Homo sapiens: one gene and its partners. The protein of the gene in region 1 interacts with the protein of each later gene in a biochemical or structural test. Each region holds a gene or a part of one and is shown in the gene's direction. Other genes may lie near its edges. The genes, in order: PARD3, JAM2, F11R and SMAD1.

Evidence for each region.
Region 2: the proteins of PARD3 (region 1) and JAM2 form a complex in vitro, tested with the Homo sapiens proteins (2 studies listed by BioGRID and IntAct, with this or other methods).
Region 3: the proteins of PARD3 (region 1) and F11R form a complex in vitro, tested with the Homo sapiens proteins (one study listed by BioGRID).
Region 4: the proteins of PARD3 (region 1) and SMAD1 form a complex in vitro, tested with the Homo sapiens proteins (one study listed by BioGRID).

What each region holds. Positions count from the first base shown.
Region 1 is NC_000010.11:34,805,275-34,812,299, reverse strand, and holds part of PARD3 (partitioning defective 3 homolog), read left to right. Parts: intron 1-7,025. UniProt on the Homo sapiens protein: Adapter protein involved in asymmetrical cell division and cell polarization processes. Seems to play a central role in the formation of epithelial tight junctions. Targets the phosphatase PTEN to cell junctions.
Region 2 is NC_000021.9:25,635,034-25,642,258, forward strand, and holds the start of JAM2 (junctional adhesion molecule B isoform 1 precursor), read left to right. Parts: upstream 1-4,224; 5' UTR 4,225-4,788; coding exon 4,789-4,855; intron 4,856-7,225. UniProt on the Homo sapiens protein: Junctional adhesion protein that mediates heterotypic cell-cell interactions with its cognate receptor JAM3 to regulate different cellular processes. Plays a role in homing and mobilization of hematopoietic stem and progenitor cells within the bone marrow.
Region 3 is NC_000001.11:160,997,153-161,004,177, reverse strand, and holds part of F11R (junctional adhesion molecule A isoform 1 precursor), read left to right. Parts: intron 1-2,824; coding exon 2,825-2,893; intron 2,894-3,050; coding exon 3,051-3,158; intron 3,159-3,400; coding exon 3,401-3,547; intron 3,548-3,829; coding exon 3,830-4,032; intron 4,033-4,199; coding exon 4,200-4,302; intron 4,303-4,430; coding exon 4,431-4,538; intron 4,539-4,685; coding exon of another isoform or gene 4,686-4,769; coding exon 4,770-4,782; intron 4,783-5,086; coding exon 5,087-5,135; intron 5,136-5,271; coding exon 5,272-5,307; 3' UTR 5,308-7,025. UniProt on the Homo sapiens protein: Seems to play a role in epithelial tight junction formation. Appears early in primordial forms of cell junctions and recruits PARD3.
Region 4 is NC_000004.12:145,512,831-145,519,855, forward strand, and holds part of SMAD1 (mothers against decapentaplegic homolog 1), read left to right. Parts: exon of another isoform or gene 1-652; intron 653-1,607; 5' UTR 1,608-1,783; coding exon 1,784-2,183; intron 2,184-4,183; exon of another isoform or gene 4,184-4,364; intron 4,365-7,025. UniProt on the Homo sapiens protein: Transcriptional modulator that plays a role in various cellular processes, including embryonic development, cell differentiation, and tissue homeostasis.

The sequences.
Region 1 (7,025 bases):
ATGTTTATGGCTTTGGATAATAACCAACCAAGCCAAAAATAAAAAATAAAAAGGAAAAGAGAAAGGTCCCAACTCTCAAATCACCAAGGCTTTCTCTGCAGTAAACATTTTCTGGTGTGGTGGGGCTAATTTTCTGGCATTGCATGTGAGCTGTTTTCTCTTCAGATTACACAAATCAATTTTTCTGGATAGTGAAGTGTCATGATTTAATACTAGACATGTCCTCAGTGAGTAGATATTTGAAGGCTTATGCTTAGTCATGTGTGACATTTCTTTTTTCCTCTCCTGAAAGATGGTTTTGTGGTTGTGATCACTGATGGTTGGGAATAGCTGTTCATCCTCATCCACCCATCTGCATTAGGAGCCTCGCTGAGGACAGTGCGGTGCTAGACATTGGGAACCGCGTTACATGGACCGTTCTCATGAGGGCGCAGGATGGGAGGATGGACCGTGTCTGCATCTGTTCTTCTGCGCTTGCGACCTGACACGCGTGATTCCAGGTGGACATGGTGCTGAGCTGCAGCGCTGTGTGGGGTTGGTTGAAGGGCTGCTGTGTATAAAAAGTCATGCTCTATGAAAAAAATATAAGACTGAATTCGTGCAATTTTCAAAAAAAAGTATAATCTAGGAGACAGGAAGAATATATAACAGTATAAATAACAGGAGGTGGTAGCATTAATTGGCACCACTGTGATACAGTCAGTAATCGCTTCTGGATTTTGGAGGTGGGTGCTATCATTATGGGGTGTGTGTGGGAGTCTCATTTAGTCACTAGGATTTGAACTGGGCTTGGTTGGTGGGAAGGCTGACCTTGATATAGGGCAGTGCTTGCTAACTGGGTGAGGCACCTGCCTGCAGGGGCAGATGGGCTCTGGGTCTGAGGTCTGCAGTTGGGGTCTAGGTGTGTGAATCTGCAGAATGTCTGCTACGATTCTGATAAGTGAAAGGGAGGGCATTCCAGGAAGGCAGTATGGACAAAGGCGATTCAGGCATTCAGCCCAGGGGGTCAGGATCAAACTGAGGAGGACAGAATGCCAGGGCAAGACCCTGAGACTTCGTGCAGTAGGAAGGACTGTGGTGTTTAGCTAAGAGTCAGGGTAACAAGTAGTTCTAGGAGGATGACCTGAGCAACCTTAGATGAGGTTTGGATGGATAATTCCTTAGCATTTCATTCTAAATAAAGGTTGCTGAGTGACCAAAAGGGGAAGGAGAGAGTGAAGGGCAAAAGTGAGGGCAAGGAGGTGCTGGAGCCCCTTTGCTCACTGTTCCCACCTCCCTCATAGCTCTCCTCTCAGCCTGTAGGGGAGCTTTGGATTGGGTTTGGTGACTTAGGTTTACAAGCCATTTAACCTTGGGTATAGGGGAGCTTTGTATTGGGTTTGGTGACTTAGGTTTACAGGCCATTTAACCTTGGGTACACCAACCCTACGGAGCCCCATTATCTCAAGTGGAATATTCCCTGGCAGGGTTAATGTAAGTATTAAACAGGATGATGAGAGGGAAACTCTAAAGTCCTGGGCCCGGCCCATACTAGCTGCTCCGTAAAGATGAATGGAATCACCAATATGTTTTATCCACCAAGCAGTTTTACACCCAGGGAACTTTCCCAGGTGTCCCACTATTGCTGCTTGGATTTTTCCTGTTTACTTAAAAACGCAGCATGTAATTTCATTGAAGGATAGGTAAGAATGTGAGATTGAATGACGTGCAGCACCACAATCAGGAGAACAAAATTGTGTGTTGCATGTGTGTATGGGCTGGGGAAGTAAAAGCTGCGGGTATTGGCTTGATTACAGGTTGATTATTGGGGCCTCTGGCTTCTGTCCCCAAGCACATCACTTTAGAGTGATTTAATAGCAACCTGTTGTTATTACAGGTTGAGCATCCTTTATCCAAAATACTTGGGACCACACAAGTATTTTGGATTTTTCTGGACTTTGGGATATTTTTGTATATATAATGAGATAGGTTGAAGATGGAACCCAAGTCTAATGTATTGTTAGAATTTATGTTTCCTACGTACCTTATACACATAGCCTGAAGGTAATTTTATGCAGTATTTTTGTGCTTGAAAATAAGTCTGTGGTAAGTACTTACATGTGGAATTTTCCAGGTGTGGCGTCATGTGGGTGCTCAGTAAGTTTCAGATTTTGGAGTATTTTGGATTTTGGATTTTTCAATTAGGGATGCTTGACCTGTATTTTTTAAAAAGTTGAGCTCATGGACAGAAACTTTTGAAAATGTGCTTTTTTGGTGGCGGGAGACTGTTGATTAGTAACAATGACAGTCATGGTTTTTATGAAAAATCTTGTGGTTGGTATGGAATTTTTCTGTGAATAAATGTATGACTGCATGTTATTCATTTACAAGCGTATTGAAACTTTTAAGAAAATAGTTGTACTGTTGCAGAGATTGAAAGAAAATAGAGGCAAGCATAAAAATAGTGAAATGAAAGCAGCTTTATTTATTTATTTATTTTTTTAACATTTTCTGCCTTCCCTCTAAAAAGGAAAAAGAAACTAAACATTTTTGAAAGGCTGATCTTTCCAGAATTCAAGTCACATTGTCCTCTGGTGCTGAAGCGCCTTTGTCCCGCGTTCTCCAAGTCCTGCCTTCTGAGCACAGCCTGTCCCTGTAGGGACCCCTCTTGCCTTCCAGCCACTCCCTCTGCAGCTGCTCCACCCCCTGGGACTCACATACACTTTGCTGCCTCTGTTCTGGCATTTTCTGTTTCTTCTGCCTGGGACATTTGCTCCTTCCTTGCACTCATTCGTGAGTCTTAGCCCAGACAGCCATCTCCAGGAGGCTGGCTCTCCATCCCAAGCTGCTAGAGGATCTTTCTCCCTGCCTGCTGCCTCTCCTGGGGACGTCCTGGGTGTAGCTCCTGTACCGACTCAGATGCTTGGGCTGTGCTGTGTGGTTTTCAAGTGTATCCGTGCGCCCTTCCTCCCTCCGGGTGAAATGCTTGAAGCGGTGGCTGAGCTTCAGTCTTGGTGAATAGCCCGTGTCTGTCACATTGCAGTCAGAATGTTGAGTAAATAGAAAGCTGAGAATCAACATGTTACACTGCTCTCACACAAAAAATACACTTCTGCTGAGAGGACTATCATCAGCACTCGTGAATTTAAAGGACTTTAAGGTTTGGTGTGTTTGACCTACTGGCACAAACAGCTTGTAATGGAAACTAAGATTTAATGAGGTTTGGAGTACTTGGAAGTTACTCTTTCGTATCAGCTGTCTTGAGGGAGTTCAGTTTGTTTTTCAGCTCAAGCAGAGGACCCTCCTGGGATTCGCCTTGGGCGAGGTTCAAGGCAGGTGGCCAGGGCTGTGTGAGAATCTGGCCCTGGAACACACCTATGCTTGGTCTGGCGCCTCTGATTCCGTCAGTTGAGATGCTTGGCTGAGTGCCAGGACTAAGTAGGAATGTTTAGGATCTGAGATTCTCAGAGAGAATCTGGCGGATGTGAAGCGCTTCTTGGCTTGTGGTAGACATGGATAAATTGGTTGTGGAGGGAATATTTAAAGTCCCACTTGGATGCAAACCCACAGACGGATCCTCCGTCTGTCCTGGGAGGTTCTACCTCCCCACAGAGTTGGGTGCAAGTTGGTGATGTTGAGCTCCCCATAGATGATTAGAGCCCTCGGTATTTTTTATCAAGGATGGAAATAAACATGTAAGATTGGGCCAGAAGGTGCTTTCTATAGGTAATTTTCCATCGGGGGAGATGGCATGCTAAGCCCACACAGCATGCTTTCATCCTGCTTGGCCACTCGCTCAACATTCCTGGCTGGGACCAAGGTCAATGGCAGTAGAGCTGGACATCAGTAAATGTATACAGTTTTACCTGTTTTGGGTACCTTTTCTGTACAAAAGCAAATCTTTATCAAAATAAATGCCGAGTTCAGTGAATAAAGTAGAAAGATGACTGATTTTTTTTTGTCTTTTAGTCATTATTTACAAGTTTTTTCTTTCTTTCTTTTGTTTTTTTTGAGACAGGGTCTTTGTCACCCAGGCTGGAGTGAAGTGGCGTGATCTCTGCTCACTGCAGCCTCAACCTCCCAGGCTCAAGCGATCCTCCTGCCTCAGTCCCCCAAGTAGCTGGGACTACAGTTGTGTGCCGCCACACCTGGCTAATTTTTGTAGTTTTTGTAGAGACGGCATCTCGCCATGTTGGCTAGGCTGATCTCAAACACCTGAGCTCAAGCAATCCACCTGCCTTGGTCCTCCAGAGTGCTGGGATTACAGGCACGAGCCACCATGCCTGGCCTAAATTTTAGCAAATAAGTAAAAATAACTTTGTTTTAACTTATTTAGTAAATAAGTAAACATTTTAGTAAATAAAGTTAAAATAACTTTCGTGTATAGGTCTGTGCCTTCTTGCATCTGGCCTGCTATCTTTACGTGGTTTTTGCCATTTAAATATTACTTTTGTGTATTCCTTTTTTCTCCATCAACTCATATTGGTCCTTGCAAGTAAAATTTCAAGCTCCACATCCAAGTGACTTTAAATATCAATTATTTATTTTTTTCACCTAAACAGAGTATATTTTGTATATAGTCTCTGTACTCTATTCTGTATATATTTTATATATACTCTTTATATATATACACACACACACAAGCACACAAGAGAAATGAAAATGTGTACACAAAACCTGTACATCAGTGTTCATAGCAGCAAGCCCACATATTGTATAATTCTGTTCCTATAACATGACCAGAGTGGGTAGCTCTATAGAGACAGTAGAGTGGTGTTCCGCTAGGACTGGGAGTTTGGAGTCATGGAGACTGTGAATGGGTATGAGGTTTCCTTTTGGGATGATGAAAATATTCTAAGATCATGGTGATGGTTGCACAGTTCTATTCAAGTGTATACTTTCAATGGATGGAGTTTATGGTTATGTGATTATATGTCAATAAAGATGTTAGAAAAATAGACTGCATAAGCCACTATGAACAACGCTCCATTTTTAGGTATTTTGTAGTTCTGAGCATTTCATAAAATGACATATATATGTGTATCAGAGATGCTCAAAACACTTCAAATGAAAACTGGCTGTCTTTAGGAGTTTTCCATATAGTGTGGAATCCCTGCTTTCTCAGGCCTGTCCAATGTGTCCTGTTTAGTGTCTGGTAAGCTCCTGGCTGCTGAGCCTCCAGGTCCCCTGGTCTCTGTGTGCTACCCCCTACCCCCTCTAAGGGCTTCACCAATTGTTCTTTAGCCAGAGACTCCTTCTACCCAGCTCGCCAGCTACCTTTGTGCAGTGGAGGTTGAGAATGCCCCAAGGATGCACGTAATGGACCAGCCTTTCCAGCATTTGGCTTTGGCTCCCAGAAATTTTGAGCTTTGGCAAATCTTACAAGCTCTGTGAGCCTCTGTTTCCCCATGTTCTCATATTCAGAGGTGCTGGGCTGGACTCCCACTGCCAGTTCCCTGAGCTGTGCAGGGACTCCTGCTCTGCATGGTTTGTTTTGGTGCTCATGGGACCATAAGTGATGTGCAGTGGCTTTTCAGATGGTTATACAGGGTCCAGGACCTCTTACTGCTTCCCTCCATGCTGTGAGAATATTTTGCCTCACCCCGACCCCCCCAACTTTGAAATGACGGGGCTTGCTCTCCAGGTCAAATGGATGCTATTCAGAGTTAGGGTAAATTTTGCTTAGGGTTGGCTGGGTGAGAAGGCTCACGCCTGTAATCCCAGAGCTTTGGGAAGCTGAGGTGGGAGGATTGCTTGAGGCCAGGAGTTCAAGACCCAGCCTGGGCAACATAGTGAGACCCCGTCTCTTTTTAAAAAAATTAGCCAGGCATAGGCCGGGTGTGGTGGCTCACGCCTGTAATCCCAGTACTTTGGGAGGCCGAGGTGGGTGGATCACGAGGTCAGGAGTTCGAGCCTGGCCAAAGTAGTGAAACCCCATCTCTACTTAAAGTACAAAAAATAGCTGGGCATGGTGGTGCACACCTATAATCACAGCTACTTGGGAGGCTGAGGCAAGAGAATCACTTGAATCCTGGGAGGCAGAGGTTGCAGTGAGCCAAGATAGCGACACTGCACTCCAGCCTGGGCGATGGGGAGATTCATCTCAAAAAAAAAAAAAAAAAATTAGCCAGACATGGTTGTGTGCATCTTTAGTCCCAGCTGCTCAGGAGGCTGACGTGGGAGGATTGCTTGAGCTCAGGAGTTTGAGATTGCAGTGAACTATGATGGTGTCACTGCACTCCAGCTTGGGTGACACAGCGAGACTCTGTCTCTAACAGAAAAAAAAAATTTGTCTAGGGTGTCCTTCAGAATTTCCTTCCTTCTTCCTTTTTTTTTGTCTTTTTGAGACGGAGTCTCGCTCTGTCGCCCAGGCTGGAGTGCAGTGACGTGATTTCGGCTCACTGCAAGCTCCACCTCCTAGGTTCACGCCATTCTCCTGCCTCAGCCTCCCGAGTAGCTGGGACTACAGGTGCCCACCACCACGCCTGGCTAATTTTTTTGTATTTTTAGTAGAGGTGGGGTTTCACCGTGTTAGCCAGGATGGTCTCGATCTCCTGACCTCGTGATCCGCCTGTCTCAGCCTCCCAAAGTGCTGGGATTACAGGCGTGAGCCACCGCGCCCGGCCCCAGAATTTCTTATTGTCTCAAGGTAAGTATCTTTTAATGTAAATCACATCATGCTCAGAAGTGACTAAGACAATTCCCTTTGTGAATTACAGATGTATGATATTGCATGATACGAACTGTACGGTGTATATATATATATATATATATATATGCACATACGTGTGTATTTCTGGGGTGATCTTTTATGGTGGTATAAATTTAAGTCATTTTAGAGATGATAGTCAAGTCAACATTCTCCCAATCTTGGTGTTTTTAACTATTCAGACACTGTAAGATTTAAGGTTTTGGAACTCAGATGTATATTTTTCTAGTGTCTGGTTTTTCCCTTCTTGTATTTGAGACGGAGTCTCACTTTGTTGCCCAGGCTGCAGTGCAGTGGCAGAGTCTCGGCTCACTGCAACCTCTGCCTCCTGGGTTCA
Region 2 (7,225 bases), on another chromosome or scaffold:
CTTTGAATAAAGTCTGCCTTACCATCTTTAACAAGCGTCATGAATAGTTTTTTTCTTGGAATGTTCCTGAAACCACCATTGCAAAATTATAACTGAGACAGTGAAAGAGACCTGACCTAACCAACTCCATCTTCTAACCTCCAAGCTGATCTTGTTTATTCCTGGGCGTAGGCTGAACTAACTTTGGGAGGAACTTAGTTCATTGTTTATAGTTTGACACAAAGATGGTGACAACGTTTTCCCAAAACAAACCCCCTTCTTGCCTGGGGACTAGACTGCCTTTGTAGGACTAACAAATTAGCCACGAGATTAGAAATTATGGTTTAAGAGTCATTCAGGCGGAGGCTGTAAGATCCTGACCCTCCATAAACTGCTCCTAAAATCAGTGTTTGAGATATTTCGCAGACCCTGCACTTGATGGATCAGCTGGTGCCACCCCGACGGAGAAACTGGCTCATCTGATCTTGTGGCCCCCACCCGGAACTGACTCAGCACAGAGGACAGTTTCAACTTCCTATGATTTCATCTCCAACCCAACCAATCAGCACTCTCGACCCACTGGTCTTTCCCTCACCTACCAAGAATTATCCTTAAACACTCTGATCCCTGAATGCAGAGAGACTGATATGAGTAATGATAAAACTCCATCTTCCACACAGCCAGCTCTGCGTGAATGACTCTTTCACCATTACAATTGCCCTGTCTTGATAAATCAGCTCTATCTGGGCATCGGGCAAGGTGAACCCATTGGGTGGTTATATTCCTAACACAAAGAAATGATAAATGCTTGAGGACGTGGATATTCCAATTACCCTGCTTGCTACACTGTATGCTTGTATCAAATCATCACCTGTACCCCATAAATATATAAAACTATTATGTACCCATAATAATTAAAAAAATTTTTAAATATTTTTAATATATCTTATGCATTAGTTGCTTTACTAAGTATAAAACTCAAGTCTGCAAATTTTTTCTACATGTTTTTTGGAGGCTTGCTTTCTCTATTATCCATGTGGGCAATACCCTCATAGACACTAAATACAAGAGACAATTCTCAACCCTCTTTTTAGCCTTGGACTGTACAAACACCTCCACCTTTAGCTCCTGATTCTCTCCCAGTTCCTTTTGTACTTTTTGACTGCTCTTTCTTGTGTTCTTTCTCTGGGTTCTTTCTCTTCCTACCTCTTACTGCAGTTATTTCCTTAGATTTATCCATAAACATTCACTTCTTTGTCTGATTGATCTCATTCACTGCTCCTGCCTTCTAGAAAGTTCCTCAAACAATAATCCATAGATTCGTTGCATCAGAATTAATCAAGGTACTTGTTAATAATACAGCTTCCTGGGGCTGCTGAGATTAAAACTTCTGAAACTCAGAATTTTAACATAATTTTAAGGAAAGAATCATAATGAAGGAGCTCCAAAGGATTCTGGGGAGAAGATAGTCCAGTGATCACTGTTCTAGAAGATGCTGCTAATATTTATATTTATTTCTTTAGTCAATCCTGAGGGTTTCCTGTTCTCTAGAGCACTCATTCTAACAGTCTACTGGTCACCCCAGCTATATTTCTCTCTCTCAACTCATCCCAAACCTGCAGGAATTATGTATGCCCTCTATGTTTCTTATTCCTTTAATGACACTATTTATAACCTCCACATACAGCCACCTATGCTAGAAATCTGATACCTACATGTTCTCTCCTTTCTCACCCCTACATCTAGCTGATAACATAATCCTGTTGACCATGTTTGTGAAATATCATCTGAATCCACCCGGTTTTTCATTTATCACACGGTGACCATTTACTTCACAACTTGGTCTCTTTCTCAGGATATTGTAATAGTTTAGACTTGACTAACACCCTGATTCTCTTTTCTGTAATCCATCCTGCACATTTCAATATGAGTCATCATTCTAGAGCAGCACTCTCTTGTAGAACTTCCTGCAATGATGGAAATACATTTTCCAATATGGTAGCCCCTACCCTCATGTGACTATTGAGAAATTCATATGTGATCAGTGTCAGTGGAGAACTGCATTTTACATATAATTGAATTCAAATTTATATAGCCAGCCAGGCATGGTGGCTCACACCTGTAATTCCAGCACTTTGGGAGGCCAAGGCGTGTGGATCATCTGAGGTCAGAAGTTCGAGACCAGCCTGGCAAACATGGCGAAACCCCATCTCTACAAAAAATACAAAAATTAGCCTGCATGGTGGCACATGCCTGTAGTCCCATCTACTGGACTGAGGAGGCTGAGGCAGGAGAATCACTTGAACCTGGGAGGCGGAGGTTGCAGTGAGCTGAGATTGCACCACTGTACTCCAGCCTGTGTGACAAAGTGAGACTCTGTCTCAAATTAAAAACAAAACAAAAAAAATGTATATAGCCACTTAGATCTATAGGCTACCATATTGGACACCACAGTTCTAAAATATGAGTCTTTTCTTATCTCATTGCTTTCAAAAAGCTCATTAGCTGTAGGATGAGGTCTAGACAGTAGCGTGAATGCTCTTCGTACTCTAACCTCCCCTTCAGTTTCTACCACCACCACCACCTACCTCACTATCCCGATCCCACATACACTTTAGTACTGTAGAACCTTGCTTTTTCTAAATAAACCATAATTTTTCAATCTCCTAGCTCTGGATCCTGCTGTTTCCTCTATGTAGAATGCCTCTCCTTTATGTCCTTCCCTTCAGAATTTGACCCATTTTTCAAGGTTTAATAAAGAAAGCCCTGGCCCCACTCCCAACAAAAGGAACAGCCCCTTATCATGGACCTTGGACAAGCCATTTAGTGTCTCTCCGCCCAGTTTTCTCATCTGCAAAGTGGGAATGATAACATTTCCTCTTTTATGGAGTTGTTGGGGGATTAGATATTGCGTTATTCAGACTCCATCACTGAGAAAGCATGCAATAAAAATAGCTGTTATTATTTTCTGTCCTCCTGTAACATTTACCATGTGGTATCAGGCATCTTTCCTGATAAGACTCTGTCTCCCCTCAAGACTGTGAGCTTGTTAGCAAGAAAGCCTCTATCTTGTTCATGGTTGTCCTTCAGCATCCAGCACATTGTTGCCATTTGTCAAATGCCTTGGCTGGGTGGCAAATAAATAACTTAGTCAGTTACTCACATAGGATTGCATAGAATTTTTTTAAGTATGACATTTTTGTGTATATTTTTAGGGAGGAGTAAAAGACATATAGCTGTAGCAAGAATTAGAAAAAAGAAGATGCCAACAACTTTTCTTTTTAAGCATCAAATCCTTCTCATTACTGCCCAGAAAAACTGGCATAAGCTGTTGTTAAATCTGTGCCCCTTCTCCTCGGTTGACTGGAGTACGAGTTTTAACATTTTGCCATTTTGACTTTCCTTTCTGGGTCCCCTGGGTCCTCTCCTCCCACCCCCTCCCTGGGTACTAAGTTTTCATCACTGTCACCACGGCAACAGCAAGGATGCCTCATTCCTCACAGTTCTGCACAGCTAAACTCTGGTCGCCTTTGTCCACTGAGCTAGCTGAATTCTTTTTAAATACACCACTAAATCAACTATCTGCTGTACAGAACTTCATCCATTATTCAACCTTTAAAAAAAAACAAAAACAAAAACAAACAAAAAAACAAAAGAAAAAAACTGATGTATACTAATTTCTTCTCCTGGGAATGGCCTTTTTCCAGACCTGCCAATACTCTTGAATACACCATACATTTTTGGTCCCTAGGAACAAATATAAAAATTGCCAGTGTACGTGCGTCCAATGTAAGTGTGGTGCAATTTTAAAGCACGCAACAGAGCATTCATAATGGGTTTCCCTTTTAAAAGCACAGTAGACCAAAAATAAACCTGACAAAGGGCAGCTGTAGAGTTTTAACACGTGGAAAACTCCACAAGCAGCAGTTATGTAACTTGAAAGAAACATGATAAATATTTCACACCATTAGATGAACTTCCAACTCTGACACTGAAAAAAAAGCAAAGAACAAGAACGCGAGACAAATGCACCTCAAATCTCCAAGGAGCAAAAAGCTTAAACTGAGAAGGGACCAAGGCTGTACTAAAATCTGAGACCTGACTTCCAGCACGAGTCTTGATTGCTTTTTTTTTTCTCGAGTTCGAGGCGGAGCCCGCGAACCCCATCTCCTCAGAGCGCCACCCCCTCAGCTTCGCCCGTTGGGCAGAATTTTCCAAATATCTCCACCCCTAGGCTGAAAAGCCAGAAAGAAGTTTTGAGCCAACGAGGGGAAGAAAGGAGTTGGGGCAAAACAGGAGGCGTTTCCCTACCCGCATACATCCCCGTCCCCGAGACACCCAATCCCCCCACCCCCAGCCTGCCCGCGCCTCCCGCCCCCAGCTCCTCGCCCTGGGGACAGCTGGCAGCCCCGCGCGGACCAGACACAAAGCCGATCAATCCCGGAGGCGTGGGGGCGGAGGGACGACCCGCCGGGGCTTTCCCGGGCGCTGCTCTCCTCCTGCTGCCCCCTCGCTAGGACCCGGCGGACGCCTCGTCTGGTTTTCACGCCCTCTAGCCCCTACCCCCACACCCCCAAAACAGAACAGACCCCCATCCCTGGGCTGGAGGACCCGCCTCTTGGCAGCCAGCTGAGAAGGCGCCCCGGGGAGGGGGAAACTGACATCCCATCTAGAGCCGTCCCTCCTCTTCCTCCCCTCCCGACTCTCTGCTCCTTTCCCGCCCCAGAAGTTCAAGGGCCCCCGGCCTCCTGCGCTCCTGCCGCCGGGACCCTCGACCTCCTCAGAGCAGCCGGCTGCCGCCCCGGGAAGATGGCGAGGAGGAGCCGCCACCGCCTCCTCCTGCTGCTGCTGCGCTACCTGGTGGTCGCCCTGGGCTGTAAGTTGCTCGGGTTCCTCTACCCTTCCTGCCTGGACCAGCCTGCCCCCACCCTCCAGCCCCCCACGGGGCGCTGGCTGACAGTGTCTGGGCGGCTCTGGGCCGAGGTCGCCGCGGGGCGTCTGACCTTGCGCCCAGGCGAGCGGGAAACCCAGGGTGCCCGCGAGCGGACGCTGGGAGCAAGGGAGCGCGAGGTCGTGGGTTTCTTGTGAATTGCGTCTGATTTTGTCAGTTCTAGATACAGAAAATTAAGGGTTCCCACTAGCAGGTTCTCATCTGTTTGCAAAGTTGGGGTAAGTTTTCAGACAGAGGGACGTGATTCGAATGCAAAACTCACTACCCACTGGTAAGATGCTAAGACCCCAAGAAAGATGGCATCACTGGGAGGCGGGCGCCGGCCACACTTTGAGTCCCCGGGGAGGGGGCAGCGTCCGCGTGGTCTGGGCTCTGTAGCGTCCCAGCTGAGCCGGCGATATGCAGCGCACTTGTGGGGCGGAGGTGGAGGGAATTCGTGGCTGCTGAGCCAGAATTACTTTTATCCTCTCCACCTGCACATCTACATTCACTTAGAGAAGTCTGGTCTGGGGACTCTAGCCAGCTGCTCTGTCCTCAGGGGACATCCAACGGGACGATTGTTAGAAAGATTCAGAAGCCACATGATCCAGTAGCTGGGGAGACGTCCCAAAGCCAATTTCACCGGATGATTTTAAACAGGATTTTCACGGATTCTGGACTCATGAGATTTGAAATCCTGGGAACGTTGCCGTTATTTTGTTTTCTTCGCGTTAACTTTTTAGGAAAATGGAGGAAATTACAATAGACTAAGCAATGCAGTTCTACTTTTGCTTTTTCTTTTTTCTCTCACCTTTTTTGTTTTGCTTTTTTCCCTTCCTTCCTTCCTCCCTTCCTTTCTCTTTCTTCTTTCTTTCTCTCTCTCTTTCTTTCTGTCTCTCTTTCTTTCTTTTGTAAAATGAGTTATTGTTGCTATTCACGTTCTGGTAAAGTAACACTTATAATACTTAACCTGCGGGACGAGTGTCTAATACCACAATACAATGATATTTTCTCACGCCCTCGCTGCCCAAGTGATCATCGCACAGCTCAAGTGATGTGAGCCACGTCCCTTTGTGGAGGAGGAAGGTGCACATTGTCTCAGGCAAGGGACATGTACTGACCAATATTATATAAAGTCAAACCAGAAAGCCAAAGTTTCACAATGAAACCCTTGTGCAATTCTGAAATATCAATTGGTATCATATGGAACACACAGAAGAAAAAAAATGCACTCATGCTAAAAGGCAACAGAGAGGTAGGCTGGAGAAATCGTTAACAGAACAACTGAGAAAGTTATGTATTCTGCTGAAATTCTAAATTTCAAATAGAAAAGAGTGTGCCTTTTAGTGTAGAATTGTCACTAATTAAAAACAGAAAATCGTTCTGCTGTGCTATTCCTATTGAATCACCAACATAGAAACAATACACCCCAAGTCTGAAATTGTAGTGGAGAAACAACCAAGAGGCGAACAAAAGCATAAATGAATGGGGCTGAGTGACCTCTTCAAGCTTTAGGTAAATATAACACATTGTCTCTGCTAAACTTGATTCCTATAGGGGATGTATTTGGAAGTGTTGTGGGGACTTTTCTATATTGTTCCTGGGATACTAAAAGATCTGGCATTGCAAGAGTGTTTTCTTTGTATGTGGGTGTTTTTTTTTTTATGTTTAAAACAATTTTAGAACAGTTTGGATTTAAATAAAAATTCCAACGCTAGTATAGAGAGTTCTCATATACTCCACACCCAGTTTCCCACATTGTTAATATCTTACATTAGTATGGTACACTTTATTCAAATTTCCTTCATTCTTACCTAATGCCTTTTCTATTCCAGGATGCCATCCAGGCTACCATATTACATTTAGTTGTCCTGATTCCTTAGGTTCTTCTTGGTTGTAACAGTTTCTTAGGCTTCCCTTGCTTTCTCTTACTATAATGGGTTTGAGGAGTTCTGGTCAAGTATCTGGTAGAATGACTGCGAATTGCTGTTTCTCTGATATTTTTCTCATAACTAGACTGGGGTTATAGGTTTTTTGGAGGAAGATCAGAAAGTGGTAAGGGGCCTAGGTAAAGTGACATTTTCATCACATTATCTCCAGGGAACATACCGTACACATGACTTATTGCTGTTGATGTGAACCTAGGTCACCTGTAATCATACTCCTAATGTAGTGCATACCAGTTTTCTCCACAGATTACCTACCCTTTTTTCTTCATTTCCATACTAGATTTTTTTGGAAGGAAGTCACTACATGCAACCCACACTTCTTCAGGAAGGAGAGTTATGCTCCATCTCCTTGAAGGCGGAGTATCTT
Region 3 (7,025 bases), on another chromosome or scaffold:
GACCAGGAGTTCTAGACCAGCCTGGGCAATGTAGCAAGAACCCAGCTCTTTAAAAAAAAGAAATTCCAGCCTGGACAACATGGTGAAACCCTGTCTACTAAAAATACAAAAAATTGCCGGGCGCGGTGGCTCACGCTTGTAATCCCAGCATTTTGGGAGGCCAGGGCGGGTGGATCACCTGAGATCAGGAGTTCGAGACCAGCCTGACCAACATGGAGAAACCCCATCTCTACTAAAAATACAAAATTAGCCGGGCATGGTGGCGCCTGCCTGTAATCCTAGCTACTAGGGAGGCCGAGGCAGGAGAATCTCCTGAACCTGGGAGGCGGAGGTTGTGGTGAGTCTAGATTGCGCCACTGCACTCCAGTCTGGGCAACTAGAACAAAACTCCATCTTAAAAAAATAATAATAATAATACAAAAAACTAGTTAGAACTAGCTAGGCGTAGTGGCGGGCGCCTGTAATCCCAGCTACTCAGGAGGCTGGGGCAGGAGAATCTCTTGAATGTGGGAGGCAGAGGTTGCAGTGAGCCGAGATCACACCACTGCACTCTAGCCAGGGCGACAGAGTGAGACTCTGTCTCAACAAAAAAACAAAAGAAAAAAAAGAAAATTAGGCCGGTCGCCGTGGCTCACGCCTATAATTCCAGCACTTTGGGCGGCTGCAGCGGGCAGATCACTTTAGGTCAGGAGTTTGAGACCAGCCTGGCCAACGTGGTGAAACCCCATCTCTACTAAAAATGCAAAAATTAGGCCAGGTGCAGTGGCTTAATCACGCCTGTAATCCCAGCACTTTGGGAGGCTGAGGCGGGCGGATCACCTGAAGTCGGGAGTTCGAGACCAGCCTGATTAACATGGAGAAACCCTGTCTCTACTAAAAATACAAAATTAGCCGGGCATGGTGGCACATGCCTGTAATCCCAGCTACTTGGGAGGCTGAGGCAGGAGAATCCCTTGAACCCGGAAGGTGGAGGTTGCGGTGAGCCGAGATTGCGCCATTGCACTCCAGCCTGGGCAACAAGAGCGAAACTCTGTCTCAAAAAAAAAAAAAAAAATACAAAAATTAGCCGGCATGGTGGTAAGCGCCTGTAATCCCAGCTGTTTGGAAGGCTGAAGAGAATCACTTGAACCTGGGAGGCAGAGGCTGCAGTGAGCTGAGATAGCGCCATTGCACTCCAGCCTGGGCAACAGGAGTGAAACTCCGTCTCAAAAAAAAAAAAAACAAATAAATAGAGAGTATAATAAGAGAAAAAGGATATAGGAGTAACCTATATCTTTAGTCTCTTATCTATAAAATGGGAGAGAGAATACTTATCTGGACTAATTCATAGTGTTATTATATCAGATTGAAATACAGGTATACAAATATTATCTAAACATTAATGCCAAAATTTAAAAAAAAGAACCTAAAGGACTTTAGAGCACATCTATTTCATATTTCAGAGAGGAAGGGGAGTCTCAGAGGTCAAGAGACCATATTCAGTTATGTGCATAATTAAGTAAAAGAAAAATGTACTTGAATTTAACAGATGTGCTTGACTTCTACAAACATTTATCTAAGACAGGGTCCTGACTTGAAGCTACAAATAAAAGGATATTTCATGAATTTGACTTTGAAAACATGGATGAGAATAATTGTGTAAGTGCAGGTTTGTAGCTGCATCATGTGATCCCAGAATCCCTGGTCACTGGTTCTTAATTTGACCTTTGTGGGTCCCTCCTATGAACCCTGATGCACCTCCCCCATATTATTTAATTAGCCTTGTTGCTTCTCCCTCCCTCCACCCAGCACACACTATCTTTTCTTTTCTTTCTCCATTTGGCAAGTAGAATATTCTAATGAGGTGATCTGAACCCACTTCTAGTGCAAACTTCACCTCAGAACCAGTTGTGTGTTTTTTTTTTTTTTTTTTTTTTGAGATTGAGTCTTGCTCTGTCGCCCAGGCTGGAGGGCAGTGGCGCGATCTCGGCTCACTGCAATCTCCGCCTCCCGGGTTCAAGCGACTCTTCTGCCTCAGCCTCCCAAGTAGCTGGGACTACAGGTGTGCCACCATGCCTGGCTAATTTTTGTATTATTAGTAGAGATGGGGTTTCACCATATTGGCCAGGCTGGTCTTGAACTCCTGACCTCATGACCTCCCCACCTCGGCCTCCCAAAGTGCTGGGTTTACAGGCCTGAGCCACCGCACCTGGCCCCAGCTGTGTGATCTTAGGCACATTTACTTCTTGTACTCTCAGTTCCTCATGTAAACTCGGGATAATAATATACGTCTTGCCGATCTGTCATGCTTGTGTCCAGGATCAAATGATGCAACGTGTCATAATGTACACGAAAACACTTTTAAAAGCACCACATGCTCCACAAATGTCGAGTATTATTATTATCCTCATCATGGCTCTGCCCTTCCCTTCCATCCCTTGCCTCCAGCCCTGCTGGCTTCCTTCCAGGATTGTCCTGACAAGTGGCTGCAATCATTTGTTGAGAAGCTTTCTCTGAACAGTGAAATGTCATTCTGGAAGCTGCCCTTGGACTAGTAGAAATCTAATTAGATTATTGGGAGTCACAGAGAGAAAAATTAGAAGCAAAAGAAACTGCATTCCCATGGATAAAAGAAGTATTAGCTGGCAATTGTAGCAAAAAGCACTTAAAGAAGACATTTAGGATCATGGTGACAAAGTGTGAGAGCCAGAGGGAGCATAAGTCTGGAATCCCTTCCTCTTAGGGTCTGTGAATGGAGAAGCCCTGTCCACTGGGTCTGTGACTCCTTCTTCCTGGCATTTCTCTGTCCACTCCTGACAGGGCCCACCTCTTTCTTTCTCCTTAGGCTCCCTGGCATTGGGCAGTGTTACAGTGCACTCTTCTGAACCTGAAGTCAGAATTCCTGAGAATAATCGTGAGTTGGGAGGGGCCATGGAGGGTGTGAGGGTGAGCAGTTGCCGGCCGCCTGGGGATCTAGAGAGCACCCAGCCCAGCCTGCAGTTTGGGGCTGTTCCCCATCTCGTGTATTTGCTGCTGCTTCTTCCTTCGGCTCATTTTGACCCTGTCTGCAGCTGTGAAGTTGTCCTGTGCCTACTCGGGCTTTTCTTCTCCCCGTGTGGAGTGGAAGTTTGACCAAGGAGACACCACCAGACTCGTTTGCTATAATAACAAGATCACAGGTGAGTTGCTTCTCCTCCTTCCTGATTGCCTAGGTTGTGGAGGGATTATCATGCCTGGATTCTACGATCCAGACTTTGTGCCCTTATCCCAGGGCACACCCTGGGGCTGAAGTCCTCATGGCCTTCCTACCCCCCTTTCTGGGGGAAGAGGAGAGCACTTGCGTACCTTGGATGCCCCCTTCATCAGCCTCCCTTAGCTCTCCAGTTCACTCTGTCCTTGCTCTTGCCTCCTCTTGTGGTAGCTTCCTATGAGGACCGGGTGACCTTCTTGCCAACTGGTATCACCTTCAAGTCCGTGACACGGGAAGACACTGGGACATACACTTGTATGGTCTCTGAGGAAGGCGGCAACAGCTATGGGGAGGTCAAGGTCAAGCTCATCGTGCTTGGTACGTGCCCCATGTCTTCTGGGTGGGCCTGGAGTTAGTTACTTCTCATAGCAGGCTCTGCTGCACTTTGGAGCTCTTTGATGGTGAGAATACCCACAGGTGGGCTATTCAGAGTCCTGGAGCTGCCAGAGAGGGAGATGAGCCCCTGGTTAGGTGGCAGCCAGGGGCATGGTGAGAGTAGGAGGCTTGAGCTGAGTAGTTGGGGGTACCATTGTAGTTGGTTACTTAGACTCAAGCAGCCCCCACCCTGTACTCAGCACCTTCTGTCTTTCTCTTCCACAGTGCCTCCATCCAAGCCTACAGTTAACATCCCCTCCTCTGCCACCATTGGGAACCGGGCAGTGCTGACATGCTCAGAACAAGATGGTTCCCCACCTTCTGAATACACCTGGTTCAAAGATGGGATAGTGATGCCTACGAATCCCAAAAGCACCCGTGCCTTCAGCAACTCTTCCTATGTCCTGAATCCCACAACAGGAGAGCTGGTATGTATGGGGTGGTGGTGAAAGATGTGTGGGGGATGCAGTTATAGAACCCCAAAAGGTGGGAGGAAGAACAGGCAACAGGGTGAACTTGGAACTGGGGTCAAGAGACATTAAAAAATGTCTATTTTGCTTCTTCAGCAGGAAGCCAATTTGTTTTCCTTCCTCAGGTCTTTGATCCCCTGTCAGCCTCTGATACTGGAGAATACAGCTGTGAGGCACGGAATGGGTATGGGACACCCATGACTTCAAATGCTGTGCGCATGGAAGCTGGTGAGAGTTAGGGCTTGAGCCCAGACCTGGGGTGGGGATTGGGGTCTGCTTTTCATCCTGCCATTGGTGATACTGTAGGTGCCGTGAGTGAGTATCCCCGTGCCTGACTTCTTATTTGTGTCTCGCAGTGGAGCGGAATGTGGGGGTCATCGTGGCAGCCGTCCTTGTAACCCTGATTCTCCTGGGAATCTTGGTTTTTGGCATCTGGTTTGCCTATAGCCGAGGCCACTTTGACAGTAAGTATCTGCCCCCAGAGGCTCTCCTTTGTACTGCCCCCATCCCAGGGCCTGGCATGGGTGTCATCTGAGTACTGACCCTGATACTGTGCTCATGTGTGTGGGTGTTGTCCCCTGGGGAACACTGATCACCCATCTAACACCAAGAGCTGGGGGCCTGCCCCTCCATCTTCCCAAGCCATGCTGTCTTCTGTCCTGCTGACACTCATGATCCCATTTCTTCTCTTTCAGGAACAAAGAAAGGGTGAGTGAGGTGCTGTCCTGGGGTTCTCCAAGTTTGAGAGCATGGATGCATGTGGTTTGAAGCTGAAGTGGGCCTAGGGGAATGGGTTGAAGGCAGAAGCAACCAGTTTGGAGGGAAGGCATTTGGATATCCAGCCCTTTCTCTGTGGCCTTGGCCCTGGGTCTGTCCTGTTACCCCACCCATACCTGTCTGCTGCGCACTCTGTGCTTCTGTAGCATTCTCGCTTCTGGCCTTTAAAGTTGGCAAGGGGAGGTTAATAAGCACCTAGGTGGCTGAGTGTCTCTGTCTTCTGGCTTGTTCACAGGACTTCGAGTAAGAAGGTGATTTACAGCCAGCCTAGTGCCCGAAGTGAAGTGAGTATGCCTCCCCTGGGCAGGGGTGGGCCACCTGGGGCTGGAGTGAGGAGATTTCTAGCCCATGTTTATGTGTTTTGGGGATTATCAGCTAAAGAAGACTATTGAGAGTTGACTGGATGTTTTATTTCTGCAGGGAGAATTCAAACAGACCTCGTCATTCCTGGTGTGAGCCTGGTCGGCTCACCGCCTATCATCTGCATTTGCCTTACTCAGGTGCTACCGGACTCTGGCCCCTGATGTCTGTAGTTTCACAGGATGCCTTATTTGTCTTCTACACCCCACAGGGCCCCCTACTTCTTCGGATGTGTTTTTAATAATGTCAGCTATGTGCCCCATCCTCCTTCATGCCCTCCCTCCCTTTCCTACCACTGCTGAGTGGCCTGGAACTTGTTTAAAGTGTTTATTCCCCATTTCTTTGAGGGATCAGGAAGGAATCCTGGGTATGCCATTGACTTCCCTTCTAAGTAGACAGCAAAAATGGCGGGGGTCGCAGGAATCTGCACTCAACTGCCCACCTGGCTGGCAGGGATCTTTGAATAGGTATCTTGAGCTTGGTTCTGGGCTCTTTCCTTGTGTACTGACGACCAGGGCCAGCTGTTCTAGAGCGGGAATTAGAGGCTAGAGCGGCTGAAATGGTTGTTTGGTGATGACACTGGGGTCCTTCCATCTCTGGGGCCCACTCTCTTCTGTCTTCCCATGGGAAGTGCCACTGGGATCCCTCTGCCCTGTCCTCCTGAATACAAGCTGACTGACATTGACTGTGTCTGTGGAAAATGGGAGCTCTTGTTGTGGAGAGCATAGTAAATTTTCAGAGAACTTGAAGCCAAAAGGATTTAAAACCGCTGCTCTAAAGAAAAGAAAACTGGAGGCTGGGCGCAGTGGCTCACGCCTATAATCCCAGAGGCTGAGGCAGGCGGATCACCTGAGGTCAGGAGTTCAAGATCAGCCTGACCAACATGGAGAAACCCTACTAAAAATACAAAGTTAGCCAGGCATAGTGGTGCATGCCTGTAATCCCAGCTGCTCAGGAGCCTGGCAACAAGAGCAAAACTCCAGCTCAAAAAAAAAAAGAAAGAAAAGAAAGCTGGAGCTGGTGGCTTAGGCCATCACCCTTCCCTTGGCTGGAACTACTGGACAGACCCTTTTGAGATGTGCCTGTGGTGCTGTGGAGATGTGTGTAGTGGTCTTAGCTCTTTGTTGAGCTTGTGTGTGTGTTGTGTAGTCTTAGCTGTATGCTGAAATTGGGCGTGTGTTGGAGGGCTTCTTAGCTCTTTGGTGAGATTGTATTTCTATGTGTTTGTATCAGCTGAATGTTGCTGGAAATAAAACCTTGGTTTGTCAAGGCTCTTTTTTGTGGGAAGTAAGTAGGGGAAAAGGTCTTTGAGGGTTCCTAGGCTCCTTTGTACAACAGGAAAATGCCTCAAAGCCTTGCTTCCCAGCAACCTGGGGCTGGTTCCCAGTGCCTGGTCCTGCCCCTTCCTGGTTCTTATCTCAAGGCAGAGCTTCTGAATTTCAGGCCTTCATTCCAGAGCCCTCTTGTGGCCAGGCCTTCCTTTGCTGGAGGAAGGTACACAGGGTGAAGCTGATGCTGTACTTGGGGGATCTCCTTGGCCTGTTCCACCAAGTGAGAGAAGGTACTTACTCTTGTACCTCCTGTTCAGCCAGGTGCATTAACAGACCTCCCTACAGCTGTAGGAACTACTGTCCCAGAGCTGAGGCAAGGGGATTTCTCAGGTCATTTGGAGAACAAGTGCTTTAGTAGTAGTTTAAAGTAGTAACTGCTACTGTATTTAGTGGGGTGGAATTCAGAAGAAATTTGAAGACCAGATCATGGGTGGTCTGCATGTGAATGAACAGGAATGAGCCGGACAGCCTGGCTGTCATTGC
Region 4 (7,025 bases), on another chromosome or scaffold:
TCCTCTACAGAGAATTTGTTTTTCTTCTGGCAAGCTGTTAGAGAGCAATACCCATCACCTAGACCAAGGCTAGGATTAAGATGATTCTAGATTGGTTGTAAAGACTGATCCGTTTCATTTTTGCCCTTAGACTGGGGCATATTCCTCCAGGAGCTTCCATTGAAAGCCTAGACTATTTACCAGGGTTTCTCCTCAGCAGGCCCTCAACTCCATTTGTTGCTGTGTTGTTATTTTGGGGTTCCTCAGCGCTATGAGGCTACTAGAAGCTCTGCTTAGTTTTTAGCCTCTTAGTTACCTCTTTCTGCTCGGCTCCTAGACCTTTTGCTGCTCATAGCATAGCTATTGGCAAATCCCTGGAAAGAGTGGTGACGAATATTCAGCTCACTTCATTGCATTTCCCCTCTCTCCAGGATCTTGGCCCCCTCAAGTCCTGAGTGCCTTGGTTCCTCTTTGATGCCTTTAAAAAGCTGGGCTTTTGTTTGTTTGTTTTCTGGCTTGTTTGTTTGGAAGGAGGTTGGTCTGATACGTGCTACTCCAGTTTAGCCAGGGTTTGTACAAAGTTAACCTCCTTAACCTTTTTCACATTTTATGTTTTCATGTGCTAAAGAGTAAACAGTTTAAATGAGGCAACTTGGCTAAAGAATTTGGTACAGTATGTGTCCATGTGCTTTATTCCTTTTATGTCAATAAATAGCAACATTTTTAAAGCAGGAGATGTATTTCCTATCCTATTTGTCCTGTAGCCCATAGACACAGGCTTGTTCACTGAAGAAATACCCTAAAATATTACTACATTTATATAAGAGGAATTTTCTTTTAGCCTAAGAAATATTTGTAGAACAAACCAAAAAAACAGAGATATTAGACTATTTTTTTCTCCCTGTTGCTTTCAGTTTTTGTTGATTGAGGTGTTTTGAAATATATTTTTAGAGGTTATAAATGAATCTAAATCTAAAATATTACAATATCTTTTGAGAACTTGGGCTTTTTAACTTTGTTGCTTTTATCCCAGAGCTTTTGCTAACAGTGGCTTACTTTTTAAACTGCTTCTCAGTTTACTCATCTGTAAAGTGGCAGCAATTGTATTACCTAACTCAAAGGATTGTGAAAAGCATTAAATGCTATATATTAGTCTGCTTTGGTTGCCATAATAAAATATCATAGACTGGGTGGCTTAAATAACAGAAATAGATTTTCTCTTTGTTCTGGAGTCTGGAAAGTCCAAGATCAAGGTTCTGGACAATACAGGCTCTGGTGAGGGCTCTCTTCCTGGCTTGCAGATGATCACCTTCTTGCAGTACCCTCAGTGTGTGTGCATAGAGGCTGGAGGAGGGAGATAGCAATCTTAAGACCACCAGTCCTATCAGGTTAGGGCCCCACCCTGATGACCTTACTTAACTTTAATTACTTTCTTAGAGGCTCCATCTCCAAATATAGTCATACTGAGAGTTAGGGCTTCCGCATATGAATTTTAGGGGTCACAATTCAGTCCACAGCATACTGTATTACATAAAAGCACTTAAAATAGTACCTAGCACATGGTGATTACTTAATAAATGTGGTTGTATGGTAAAGATGATTCTAACCATTCTTTTTTTGTTTTGTAGGTGCTGACTGGGTTACTTTTTTAAACACTAGGAATGGTAATTTCTACTCTTCTGGACTTCAAACTAAGAAGTTAAAGAGACTTCTCTGTAAATAAACAAATCTCTTCTGCTGTCCTTTTGCATTTGGAGACAGCTTTATTTCACCATATCCAAGGAGTATAACTAGTGCTGTCATTATGAATGTGACAAGTTTATTTTCCTTTACAAGTCCAGCTGTGAAGAGACTTCTTGGGTGGAAACAGGGCGATGAAGAAGAAAAATGGGCAGAGAAAGCTGTTGATGCTTTGGTGAAAAAACTGAAGAAAAAGAAAGGTGCCATGGAGGAACTGGAAAAGGCCTTGAGCTGCCCAGGGCAACCGAGTAACTGTGTCACCATTCCCCGCTCTCTGGATGGCAGGCTGCAAGTCTCCCACCGGAAGGGACTGCCTCATGTCATTTACTGCCGTGTGTGGCGCTGGCCCGATCTTCAGAGCCACCATGAACTAAAACCACTGGAATGCTGTGAGTTTCCTTTTGGTTCCAAGCAGAAGGAGGTCTGCATCAATCCCTACCACTATAAGAGAGTAGAAAGCCCTGGTAAGTGAGTTATTTTATGTTGATGTGCTTTGTGTGCCCAGTACCAGATTTGTGTTGTTTAGAACATGAAAATAATCCCTTTGCTTGTTTTTAGTTGTAATTTAAAAATATTTGGGGAAACTGTGTGTGTGTGTGTGTGTGTGTGTGTGTGTGTGTGTGTGTGTCTGTGTGAATGCAAGAGAGAAAGCCCCTGAGTGTTTCATACATTTTAACAGCTTAGTCATCTCTAGTTAACATTATGTCTTGGGAGCAGGCTATGACAATTGTCATTGCAGTACTAATACCTCTAATTTTTAATAAATTGTTTTCTTTCTAAATTTATTTTTTATGTCTCACATGGTTCTCTGCATTTCTCTAGATAAAATTAGCTATGAATTGTATTCTAAGGGAAGAAAATTAGGAAAGAAATGCATTATTGCTGTCTATATGCTTAAGGGAAGTACATCATGAGGGTAGTTGCCAGTGACTTAAACCATTCTGAACTTAAGAACAGCACTTTTTATCATCTCTGGCGGAATTTTGCTGTGGCATATTTCCTATGGTGAATATGAAGGAATTATATCCTTCTATGGAATCATTTGATGCTATTACTTTATAAAATATACCCAGTTTTTACATGTATAGTCTTTTGGGAGGGTATGGTAAAGGATATATTTTAAAATTTATACGGTTTTGCCCTCAAGTTAGAATCTACATTCTAGAGAGTTGGATCATTGGAAAGTGATTAGATATTCAAGCACTTAAATGTCTCATTGTCGATTGGGACCAATTTTGTTGATGGATTGGCTGTTAATAGTTCCTGGGTTACTAAGGCTGTATATTAGAATCACATGGCTCTCCTCCCAGAAATCCTGATCCTGGGATAGCCTGGTAATCTTTGTTTCTAACAAGTACTTCAGGTGTTACTGATGTAGCTATTGGATTGGTGTTTAGGAATTACTAAACTAGATCATGTAATAACATGGTTTTCAAATAAAAGGCATTCTGTATTTTTGTGGAATATTTAAGACATATTTTAAAAAAAGATTTTAAAGACCAGTAGTATAACAAACATCTCTGTATCCCCTACTCATTTTAAGAAATAAAAGATTACGTGTAAACTGGAACCCCTGTTTTTGCTCCTCTGATTCTGCTCCCTTTGGTAACCACTGTTCTGAATCTGACGCTTATCATTCTCATGCATGTTTTTATACTGTTATTACATATGTATGAGTCCATGACAATATGTAATATTTTATATATTTAAAAATGTTACATAATATTGGAGTTTCTTTGTACAACTTATGTTCATCCAACATTACGTTTTTGTGATTTCTAGATTATATACTTTAGGATTACCTTGTTAAGTCCTATGAAAAACACTTTGGGAATTTATTGGAATTTCGTTGATTTCATTTGGGGAAGATTGGCCTACTGTGCTCTTGAGCATAATATTATTTAGTGCACTTTTAAGTTTCTCCATACAGCTCCTGCACTTACTAGATTTATTTCTAGATAACTGGTTTTTATTGTATCCTTTTAAAAGTTACATTTTGTTACAGTTGCTCTTGGTTAAGAGAGCATTGCCTTTTTTCTAACAACTGTGCTGAATTCTCCTTACCAGTTTGGATATAGACGTTCTTTACTGCTTGTTATATCAGCTGTGATGCAGTGTTCTTTTTTCTAAACTCAGCACAGAGGTACATGTCCCTCTTCTAGCCAGAAATGGAAATGGAGCTAAGAGTTTTGGAGAGTAAAATGTAGTAGATAAGTAATATGTACCAGCAATATTATTTAGGCACATGATTTTTTTGATCCTCGTAGTAACCTTAAAATGTATTAATACATAGGTAAGATTTTAATTCTACTCCATATGCGATGAAACTGAGGCCCCTACAAGTTAAGTGCCTTGTGTTAGAACTAGAAAATAGAGGCATTTGACATGAAAGGCAAAATTCACTATTTAAAAGACACTATGAATATGTCTTCTCCATCCATACTCCCCCTCACCCTGCGCTAACCTTCCAGCATTTCATCTTGCAATGCAGCAACTGCCTCCTGACTGGTCACCCCCTTCAGTCCATTGTCTACAGAAAGGGATCTTTTAAGATGCAGACATGATCCTCTTGTTGTCCTACTTTTCCCTACTCTTGAGAAGTCCTCTAGAGAGGTCTGCACATTCTGGTCCTTTCCTCCCTTTCCAACTTCCTTTGTACTCTTGCATGCTTTGTGTGCTTGAGTTCTCTGGAAACATTCCATGCACGTTTCCTCTATCTGTACCTGTTTCTCCTCCCTCTTTGTCTAGCCCACTCTTATTTATCGTTTGTGTCTAGCACATGGTCATTACTTAATAAACTAAGTAATTGTGTGATGGAGGTCAGTTTCATTGGGAAACCTTTCTTGATACCTCCTACTTCACACATATCTCCCTACTCTGCTTGGGGAGGTTAGGTCTCATTTCCCATAGCAACCTGAATTTCTTTAGAATGTTCTTCACACTTATAATGATTGTTCTGTTGGTCTTCTCTGCAAGATAGTAAATAAAGCTCCATGAGGGCAGGGACTATGTGTATAATTAACATCTCTATTTTTAGCAACAAGCATAATTTGATAAATTTTTGCTGTTAAATGGTGATGCTGATTTTTAATTTAATATCGTCATTTGGCCATTTTTTTAGTGCTGAATTTTCAGTTTATCTATACCTTTTGACCATCTTCTTCCCTTCTTTGGTCATTTTATGGCTATTACACCTCTGATACAAGGTGAAAAGTTAAAACCAATACTGAGATGAATTTGTTACTCTTAATAACATATGTGCTAATAAAATAATGGGGAAGAGGTGGAAAACTGGCTTACATAGGCATTTTGAGACTCCACAAATGCCATTTCAGCCTCTCCTTTACCCAGGAATCTTGTGAGTCATGGATAGAATAGAACAGTTCTGGAAAACATGGAGGCTGAGGCTAAGATCTATTTAATTTGAACATATCAAGATTTTATGTATATTTTTCACATTATGAAGTGACTGATGTGGGAATTGGAACAAAGGACTTTTTCCAGAGACCACTATGAAGCAGTCCCTGTACCTTCTGAAGAGAAACTCTACTAAATCAAAGTGCAAGAGGCAGCCAGATGTGGTGGTACATGCCTGTAGTCTCAGCTACTCAGGAGGCTGAGGTGGGAGGATCACTTGAGCCCCAGAGTTGAAGGCTGCAGCACACTATGATCATGCCTGTAAATAGCCATTACGTTCTAGCCTGGGCAGTGTAGTGAGACTCTGTCTCAGAAAAATAAAGTTAAAAAAATGCAGCATAGTAAAACCCCATCTCTACTAAAAATACAAAAATAAGCCTGGCGAGGTGGGGGGCGCCTGTAATCCCAGCTACTCGGGAGGCTGAGGCAGAAAAATCACTTGAACCTGAGAGGCGCAGGTTGTAGTGAGCCAAGATCATGCCATTGCACTCCAGCCTGGGGGACAAGAGTGAAACTCCATCTCAAAAAAAAAAAATAAAAATGTGCAAGGTGACTTAGCCCCTCACACTGCCAGAATTGAAGCCCTCTATAAAGCCGTACAGAGTACACCTGGGTATTGTTTTTGTGAAATCAGAAAAAGGGGGTCTGGAATTCTAAGCTGCACATATACACAGCTCAACACTGAATTATTTTGAACTTTGTCACTATTTTACTTCTGATGAAGTATCTCAAAGAACAGTTTAGCAGTTTAACATATTTAAGTCTCCCAAACTTGGTGACTTCTGCTGAGGTCTCAATGACTCTTGAAAAAAACTCAAAAATTGAGAATATTTAGGTTTAGAGTAGTGGTTTTCAAAGTGTCGTCCACAGAGTAGTAGCATCAGTACCACCTTGGAACTTGTTAGAAAAGCTAATTATTATTTTTAAATTGACAAATAATTGTATATATTTGTGGAATACAGTGTTATGTTTTGGTACATGTATACATTGTGGAATGATCAAATGAGGCTAATTAACATATCTGTCACCTCCCATGTGTATTTGCTTATTTCTTTCTTTTTCTTTTTTTCTCTTTTTTTTACTGCCTATTCTCTGAACCATTTTTTTGTTTGTTTGGTTGGCTTTTTTTTTTTTTTTTTTTTTTTTTGAGGTAGAGTCTCGCTCTGTTGACCAGGCTGGAGTGCAGTGGCATGATCTCGGCTCACTGCAACCTCTGCCTCCCAGGATCAAGAGATTCTCCTGCCTCAGCCTCCCGAGTAGCTAGGATTACAGACGTGCATCACCACGCCCAGCTAATTTTTGTATTTTTAGTAAAGATGGGGTTTTACCATGTTGGCCACGCTGGTCTCGAAGTCCTGACCTCAGTTGATCCACCTGCCTTGGCCTCCCAAAGTGCTGGGATTATAGGCGTGAGCCACTGAGCCCAGCTGAACCTTTTTTTTTTTCACCATACTAATTTCTTTTTGGTGAGTACATTTAAAATCCACCCCTAGCCTAAGCAACATAGCAAGACCCCGTCTTAATTTTTTTTTTTTTTAATTAGCGAGGCATGGTGGCATGTGCCTATAGTCCTACCTATTCAGAAGCTAAATCAGGAGGATCACTTGAGCCTAGGAGGTCAAACCTGTAGTGAGCTATCATCATGTCGCTGCACTCCAGCCTGGGTAAGAGAGAGACTCTGTATCAAAAAAAAAAAAAAACCCACTTTTTTAGCAATTTTGAAATATACAATGTATTATTAACTATAGTCACCATGCTGTGCAATAGATCACCAAAACTTACTACTTCTAGCTTAAGGTTTGTACCCTTTGACCAGCATTTCCTCTGTCCATGTTCACCCCTCCCTGCAGCCCCTGATAACCACCATTCTAATTCTACACTCTACTTTT